2 separate regions of the Homo sapiens genome follow, and region 2 is linked to region 1. The links come from fine-mapping of genetic effects on gene expression. A gene starts in region 1. The other region holds a variant in brackets. All regions are shown on one strand. Distances are between the middles of the regions.

What was found. PIP is the estimated chance that this variant, and not a neighbour inherited with it, causes the effect.
Region 2: its variant is the best candidate, but not a certain one, in a credible set for the expression of LINC01361 in B cells (Schmiedel 2018, PIP 0.64).

Annotation. Positions count from the first base shown.
Region 1 is chr1:82,984,579-82,988,982 of GRCh38, reverse strand. It overlaps LINC01361 (long intergenic non-protein coding RNA 1361), which reads left to right and starts at 2,775. Exons shown (of 3, transcript NR_110633.1): 1 at 2,775-2,834. All of the region lies in intron 2 of LINC01362 (long intergenic non-protein coding RNA 1362), which reads right to left.
Region 2 is chr1:83,556,698-83,561,101 of GRCh38, reverse strand. All of the region lies in intron 2 of LOC107985043, which reads right to left. Among named protein-coding and RNA genes, the nearest start is that of LINC01712, 110 kb to the right of the region's middle. The variant T/G (reference allele first, on the strand shown) is at 2,080.

The DNA.
Region 1 (4,404 bases):
AAAACTTGAATATCTCACATGAATAGAATACACCACCGGGAAAGAAAAAGCCCTTTGAACATTAAGAAGCTGAAAAGATCCTTGATAATTCAAAATGGTGGGTCTTGCTGTTCCCCTCAGCTGAACTACCTTCCCTTGCTCTTCTAACTTCTTAGCAAACTTCAAAGCTTTCCTGGTTACCCTGCCCTACCATGCTATCTCATTTTGCTAAATTCTGATAGAATTCCCTGCAGCTCAGGCATATTTAATATCACTGATTTTACTGTTGGGTATTTATCTTGTGTATTACATGGTTTGTCTCTTTAACCTGATCATAATCTTCATGAGCTTACTCTCTGAATAACCTGGCTAGTTGTATATTCAAAATAAAGGGCATTGGTAATTGCAATTATAAACACGTGGTTCATTTTGGTAGAGCAATGCTTCTCAACCTGTTCAGGTGATGGAAAAGCATTAAGGTCATCATGCTGTAAAAGGAGACGTCAATATATCTGATTTTATTAACTAGATATATTATCTTACCATACATTAGTTACTATCCCAGAATTTATATATTGTAGATAAGTAATAAAAAGCAACAAAGATTGAAGGAGAAAAAAACTTTGAAGAGGAAATATATAAAAATTATATGAATGCATGTTATTCATGTGTTTTTTCTGTTGTATTTTGCCTTGCTTTGTTTTTTAATAAAGTGGGGAAACATAAAAGCCTTTTAAAAATATTGGTGGCCGGGCGCGGTGGCTCACACCTGTAATCCCAGCACTTTGGGAGGCCAAGGTGGGCGGATTACAAGGTCAGGAGATGGACACCATCCTACCATCCTGGCTAACACAGTGAAACCCCGACTCTACTAAAAAAATACAAAAAACTAGCCTGGAGTGGTGGTGGGCGCCTGTAGTCCCAGCTACTGAGGAGGCTGAGGCAGGAGAATGGCGTGAACCCAAGAGGCAGAGCTTACAGTGAGCCAAGATTGCACCACTGCACTCCAGCCTGGGCCACAGGAGAGACTCTGTCTCAAAAAAAAAATAAATAAATAAATTAAATAAATAAATAAATAAATATAAAAATAAAAAAAGTAAATAAAATAAAATATTGGTGATATTGTTGCTTATATTACTTGGCTTCAAGTCCTTGGAGTTCTATGAAGCCACATTTGGAAACCTCTGTCACAGTGGCAAAATGTTGTATTTATTCTTACATCAACTTGTAAGGTAGCTAATGGCTACAGGTGTTATTAATTACAAAAGAATTCGGACTTGCTCAGTTACTTCGATAGGAGCATGGTCGCAAAATCAGATCTAATCAATTCCAGAGACAATGCTTTGAAGGTTTAGCACTTCTTGTTTTGATCATTGAGATATTTAATCCTATATTCTTATTTTCTTAGAATGCTAAAGAAGCATATAGATAGATTTAAGTGGTAAACAATTTTAATGCTGTTGATATCTCCCTAGAAATTTTTTATCTTTAATTACAATAGAAGGGGGATAAGAAGGCACCAACATTTACTTAGCTCCAGTTATGTGCCAGGTACTCTGCATAACTTAATTGACATTTATTCATTCCTTAACCAATATTTTTCAACAGCTGGCACATTACAAAAAAGTGCACTCTTGTGATAAGCAAAAATAGACATGCTCCCTACATTCATGAAAGGTACATATTCCAGTGTTAGACACTAACCAAATTCATAATTGTAAACAATGCTAGGAAGAAATAATACATAATTTTATCCTCAACAATCCTTTAAAGAAGTACACTGTCCCCTATTCATAAATTAGGAGGTTAAAGAGCTTGTCCAAATCTACAAGGCTAGTAAAGGTCAGCATGGCTGCCAGGTATGGCTCAGCAAGTGTTGCCTGAAACCCTTCTGAGGGCAGGGGGCATTATTCACATCCACTATAATGTAGCTGAGGCTTCTAGAGTTTTGAAGTGTATCACCCGCACAATCATAAGTGTGGCCTTAAGTGAGAGCGGAATCAGCCCTCAGTTTCTCCATTTGTCCCTAATTATTGTAGTTTCTCAGGGTAATTAAATTTGAAATATTTTAGTTTGTTCATCGAACCTACAGTATATTAAAGGTAAAATATGTAGGACAGCATCTAAACAATACCCAATTGAACGGGATACAATTCTCATTCAATTAATAAAAGATTGTTTGAGTGCCTGGTGTCTGTAAAAAAGACAGTATGAAAGATGTTTCCTGGCCTCACACTTGCCAGTAGACCAGGAAAATAAATGAAATGAGATTGACCATCACGCCACAATGCACTTAGAAGGCATTTCACTGCCTGTGAAGAATTTGTTTTTGCCTCTCCTGGCAGCCATATCAGTTGTGAGATGGAAGTTTGGAAGATAGCTAGAATGCTTCGACGAAAAACTTTGAATGATCTAACCTGGGCAATGGTGGATCCCTGCCAATTTGAGGGCATAGGAATATCATGTGCATCACAATGTTCATAATGGTTACTCCAGCAGTGTGAAAACCCATGAAGGAAACTCCAAGACTCAGGGAATCCAATTAGAAAGCTTTCACAAAAGATCGACATGAAGTGACAAGTTCTTGGATTATGGTGGTGAATTTTTTTTTTAATTGGAAAAGCATGTTCTATTTGGAAGAAACATTGAAGTCTCCTTTCCTCCTGGTTTGCTGTAGTTGCAGCTTTGTGTGGCAAGTAACACTTAGTAAATCTTCCTTACTTTTTTACTGTACTATAAATGAACTTTCTTACATAGCTTGTTTCTCAGCCCTTTTTAATTAGAATCAGAATAGGAGAATGGGTATCTCAGGCTGTGAGTAATTTGATATAGAACTTTTCACCTCCAGGTCAGTGGTAAGTGAAACATATTTATATATTTTAAGTGAATTTATTGCTCTTGAAGGGATCCCAGTTGTAATCCTTGACACCAGAACACTTATTGCCAGAAAGCCCACGGGCGTTGAAAACATTGATCAGAAAGTAACAGAGAGAAGGGGTTCAATTTCAACCGTTTTTCACTGTTTGGCTTCCCTTACAAGACCTTCTTAAATTGTTTTAATTAATCCTAGTTATGATTCTATTTTTAAAGGCTGATATCTATCTGATGACAAATTGGATATGAATCAATAAGATGGGCTTATTTCAATTTAGAGTATGAGCTATCCTGTTGCTTAAAAATAATTACCCATATCTGAAAAAGCAAGGAATTTACTACGGTATTCACTTTGCACTAGGGGGAAAAAGGAATGAGTGATAAAAATTGTATTACAAATTTCAGTAATAGGAATATGGCTTTTACAATTAGAAAATAATAGCACTGATTACATTGATCTTGGCATCAAGGGAATTAGAAGTTACTTTTTCTGGATGTGTGTGCCCATTTAACACCCCTAGAAATGACCAGAATGGATTCAACCCTGTCCAATTCCTCAGCTTCCAAGGCAACACATCCATGGCAACAACTAAGCATCATTACAGTTTCTCAAATGTGAAAAAAATAACAATTTCTTAACTCCCTTTACCCCAAGCACATTTTAGGCAATGTAAAAATATAAGAAAAAATTTCAGTTTTATCATCATTGATTATATATATACTCTGTCAGATACATTACTAGAAGATGGGCATATAATAATTAATAAAACAAATTACCTGTGTCTTAGCTTGAAGTACTCTGAATGCATAACCTAGAAAAAGAGCTTGCATGCAGACCATTAGGGACAGGAACCCAAGGGACAGGAATGAGAGAGAATGAAACGCAGGAGGGAAAGCCAAACCAAAAATGAATGCATCGGCCACCACTATAGGCAAATGGTGTTCCATCCTGCCAGACTTTCTAAGGAGGCTTATGAAATGTATTTCAGAATTGTTCACCTGGAAGATAAAATGGAAATGATTTTTTTTTTTTCCGTGGGCTCCGGCTCTCCTATTGTCAAGCGTGACCTAATGGACGTGAACTTCCCCACACTACCAAGTTGTGTGACTGGCACAGACGTGCCATGCAGCAGCATCAGGGAGTCCCTGTGGAACCTAAGAAGGACACTGTCAGGTTCACCTGTGTGAGCTTGGCCAGAACCTACGACAGACTATATGGTGCAGCTGACTGGTGGAAGAGATGAGGCTGAGAAGACACGAAAGGCTTATGGTACACTCTTCCCTTAGGGTACTCAATATTCAATGCATACCACAAAGGCATACCTTCTCTGAAAGAAAGAAGTTAAAGACTTGCATCCTTTTAGAATTATTCTATAAAGTAGATAGGCACAGATTAAATAGATGAGCTTTGGAGTCAGATAAATTGTGGTTTGAACATTCTTGGTAATTCTTGCTCTTTGTGCAGCCTAGATCAACTCATTTAGCATTTTCTCATCGGTAAAAGGGAGGGTGGGGTATGGTAAAATAGTTTCTATTCCATGCAACAATTGT
Region 2 (4,404 bases), 570 kb before region 1:
GAGTGGGGTTCTTTGGTAATCCCAGCACTTTGGGAGGCCGAGGTGGGTGGATCACGAGGTCAGGAGATCGAGACCATCCTGGCTAACACAGTGAAACCCCGTCTCTACTAAAAATACAAAAAGTTAGATGGGCGTGGTGGCGGGCACCTGTAGTCCCACCTACTTGGGAGGCTGAGGCAGGAGAATGGTGTGAACCTGGGAGTCGGAGCTTGCAGTGAGTCGAGATCACGCCAACGCACTCCAGCCTGGGCAACAGAGCGAGACTCCGTCTCAAAAAAAAAAAAAGAGAAAAAAAGAGTGGGGTCCTAATCTGATAGGGTTGGTGGCCTCTTAAGAAAAGAAAGAGACAGCAGAGAGCTCTCTGTCTCGCTTCCCCCTGCATGCATACTCAGAGGTAAGGTCACAGGAGGATTCAGGAAGAAGGCTAGTCACAAGGCAGGAAGAGAGGCCTTGCCAGAAACCAACCCTGATGGCACCTTGACCTTGGACTTCTGGCCTCTAGAACTCTGAGAAAATATGTTCTTGTTGTTGAAGCCACCCAGACTATGATATTTTGTTATGGAAGCCATAGGAGACTAATACAGGGCCTATTTGGTGCCATGCACTGAGCTAAGTGCTAAGTACAGCACCGAATGCAACAGACACAGTTCCTGTACTCAGGGGTCTCTTTCTGGAGGAAGAAGGTAAAGTGTGACAAAAGCTACTGGAGCAGAAAGAGAGTTACCTGTGGAGAATTCAGGGAGGAGTCTGCTTTATTTTGGAGTCAGGAAAGGCCTGCTAAAAGTGATTATTTGATCTCCAAGGTAAGTTCAAAGATGGTAGGGGTTGGGAGGAGGGAAGTTCAGCCCAGGCATGGTGATGACCTGTGAGAAGGCTCCGTGGCAGGACAGGCTTGGTTAGTTTAAGACCCTGGAATAAAGCCATGTGGAGAGCTTACTGGCAATGGAGAGAGACAGGCCTAGTCCACATCACACGGATTCCTGAAGCCGCATCCTGAGGATCATCTTGATCCTAAGAGCTCAGGAAGGATTCTAAATGGGGGAAAGGAAGCAAATTGAAGTATTATGAGGGGACTCTCAGGGTGGGTAAGCAAGTTGGGAAGAATAAGGTCCCTCAGACCCTCCTATCACAACAGCCTGAAGCACTGTTTCCCAAGGCTGGATGGAGTGTGTGGGAAAGATGATTTTTTGTGGAGAAATTGTTATTTTTATATGCCTAGGAAGATCTATCCCTTAGGCATGTTTTGTAATTGCACTTTCTGCAGCTTGCTAGGAAGAAAATGCCTAAATTATTTCAAAGAAAAGTACTTCAGGCATTTGTGGTTTTAGGGCCATCAAGTGCCACAAACCCTACTAAAACAGACCATTCAAAACAGAAAGTGTTGAAAGACATGCATAACTGAATCAGTCACTTAGAAACGTCTTTCTTTGCTTGTCAGCTATAGAAATGGTTGGAACTGATAAATGGCCTGCTGGAGAATTCGGTCTGCTGGTGGTGCGTCTATCCTAGGTGTTAGCAGTGACACTGCTCTGACAGGATTCAGGGCCACATCTCAGGCAAGCTTTGCCCAAGGCCCAAAGTGTTGACTGGAAGATGATCAATTATAGCGAAGCTTGGATGTTGTTGCCAGGTAGTCACACATTCAGCATGAATGTCACTCTCCATTCCAGAAAGGAGCTAAAAGGAGATTAGAGGATGTGGGGGTTGAAACTGTGGCTGTAGGAAGGGGTGAGTGTGGGAAGGACAAGGGGAAAAACATGTCAGGCTACCAGACACTTGGTAGAGTTTATGCAATTAGTTCCTCTTTCCCCCATGCAGCTGAGCCAACTCAAACGAAGCACACAAACCATTCTTCTTAATGCCCCGTGAGCTTCACAAGAGTGACTTTCTGGAACAGAATCAGACGTTTGTATGATTTCCTTCAGTTATTTTTCTTTTTCTTGTGGCCCCTATTCCCTTAGTTGCTACTTTGCCTTGCCTCATCCACCACAGAGCACATCAGAGATATGGATGTAATTCCTAGAAGATTTGAAAACCCTGAACTTGCAGAATCAGGGCATTTCTCCCAGTTGTTGATAT[T/G]ATTTTTGCTTTTTTCCCCCCTCAATTTGGAATGCCCAGCTGGGCCTGGACTGAATTCTCCTCTCTGATCTGTAGCCTGGAGTTTTCTGCATATGCACCCTACCAGTGAGCCCTGCCTGGTTATCAGAGGGAACTCACGCCAGAGAGTAAGTGCAGAGCATGCTCCAGAGGGCTACAGTAAAGGCAGGAGATACATTTGCCCTTTGACTGTAGAGAATAGTAAATTACCACAGATCTATTTAGCTCCATCTGTAGCATTTGGCACACTAACCTAGGAGATGGCTGGAAAACCTGGTATCTTGGAAACTGAATATTCTTTAAATGCAAAAATGGAGGACATGGCTAGAGAAATGGTAGAAGAATTGTTTGAAGGTAGATTGTCATTTTTCAGTGTAATATTTAGACAACCTCTCTGCCTCTCATTCTTTTCTCTCATTGACCTAGTTTTAATTATGCCATATGAAACATGTACTTGGTCTTTACAGCCATAAATTAGTTGCTTCTTATAATCGTTTCTAAATTTGGGGAGAAAAAGTCTTGGGGTGGTCTTTGATCATGTACTGCAAAAATGTCAGAAGACCACAAGAAAAATAGACAAGGTTAAATCCCGTCAAACAAAGTTCCATTTTAGAAAATTTCATATTTTGTGTGTTCATGGCTTCTTCAGTTACAAATGTGGTTAGGTTTCTTAAATTAAGATTGACATGAACCTCTTCCAACTCTTCCTCTGGATTTCAAGGTTTCCTTTAGGTTTTCTACACCTATGCATGTCAAAGAATTGTTCAGCTTGTTCAAGTCCCTGTTTCTCAAATCCTAAGATGAAATTCCGGACCACTATGTCATTGGTGCCTGGATTCTGGAAGGAGTTTTATTTTATTTGTGCGATATGAATGGAAGTGTTATGTGCTTTCTTTAATGGTGAATTAGATTTTCTTTGCTCCTTACACTTTCAGGAGATTCCTATCTCCCTGCCACATTCCTTAATGCCTTTGTTTCAAACATGTGTAAAACATATTCTTTGAAGTGTCTTACTTAGCCAAACCAAACTGGTGTATTACAAAAGAGTATTAAGGCTGTGCTTTAAAACCACCAAGAATGGAAATTATAACGAATTAACTTTCTTTCCCAAGCTAGTCTAAATCATAACTGCCTCATTTTCTATGGTCCTGCAACTATAGCTCTACATCTTTTATTTACCTGTGTCCTCAGATAATTCTAGTTGGTGGGAGGCGAGCACCATTATGCATATTTTACAGTTAAGGAAACAGCATCAGAGATGTTAAGTAACTTGCTTAAGGGAAGTCTGTTAGAGGGACTTAGAGTTGGGATTCAAACCCAGGCATGGCAGCCTGCATTTTTCCCACTCTGTCTCCCTGGCTCTCCTGGAGTCTGTGTTGGCTGCTGGTTGGAGAGAAGGAGATCGAGTGCTATGTTTGGGACCAGTGGGAGACAGCTTTGTGAGATGTCTATATACACAGATGCTAGGGTCAGGTTGATATTTGAAGAGTCACCAATATCAACTCTGTGCATTTTTTTTTCTTATCGGTAAAATGGGGATAATAATGCTATCAACCTCATAGGGCTGTAGTTAGAATTGAATTAAGCCACGTAAATAATTTAGTACCTTGTCTGGCACAGAGAAAATTGTTAGCAACTCTTATTTTATTTCTGTGCCTCCCTCCTTTCCTTCTTTCTTTCCAACATCAATCAGTTCTTGAATACTTAATAAATGCTTGCACACTAGTCTAGATATAGTTAGTAGACATGAGCACAAGGTAGTTCTTGAAACTCAAAGTTCTTAAGCTTAGTGGGGGCAGTAAATTATATAATAATGGGATATACATTACTGTAAAGACATGTGTGATAAATAACCGGTTGTGTAGAATATTCCAAGGTGGAAAAATAATAAGGATATTTGGGGTGGAAGGAACATAATATGCAAAAATATGTGGTGGATGGCTGGATGTGGTGAAGGGAGTGAGAAGTGTGGTCAGAAGTGATGGAAGTTGAGGCAGAAAAGTAGAAGAGTAGGCAGAGAGGGGGGCTGAATACCATACATGGAGGAGTTATTTTATTTACATAGGAAAAGGCATATAATGCTCACCATGTATAAGTCACTGTTCTATGCCATTTACCAGTATTAACTCAATCCTTCTAATAAGCCTACAATGTAAGTAACCCATTTTACAGATGGAGAAACTAAGGTGCAGCCCCAAGTCACTCTGCTTATAATTGGCCCAGCTGGTATTTGAATTCAGACAGGTAGGCTCTGGAGCCCTTGCTTTAGCTGCCTTGCTTGCCTGCTTTACAAGTATGAACCTAACC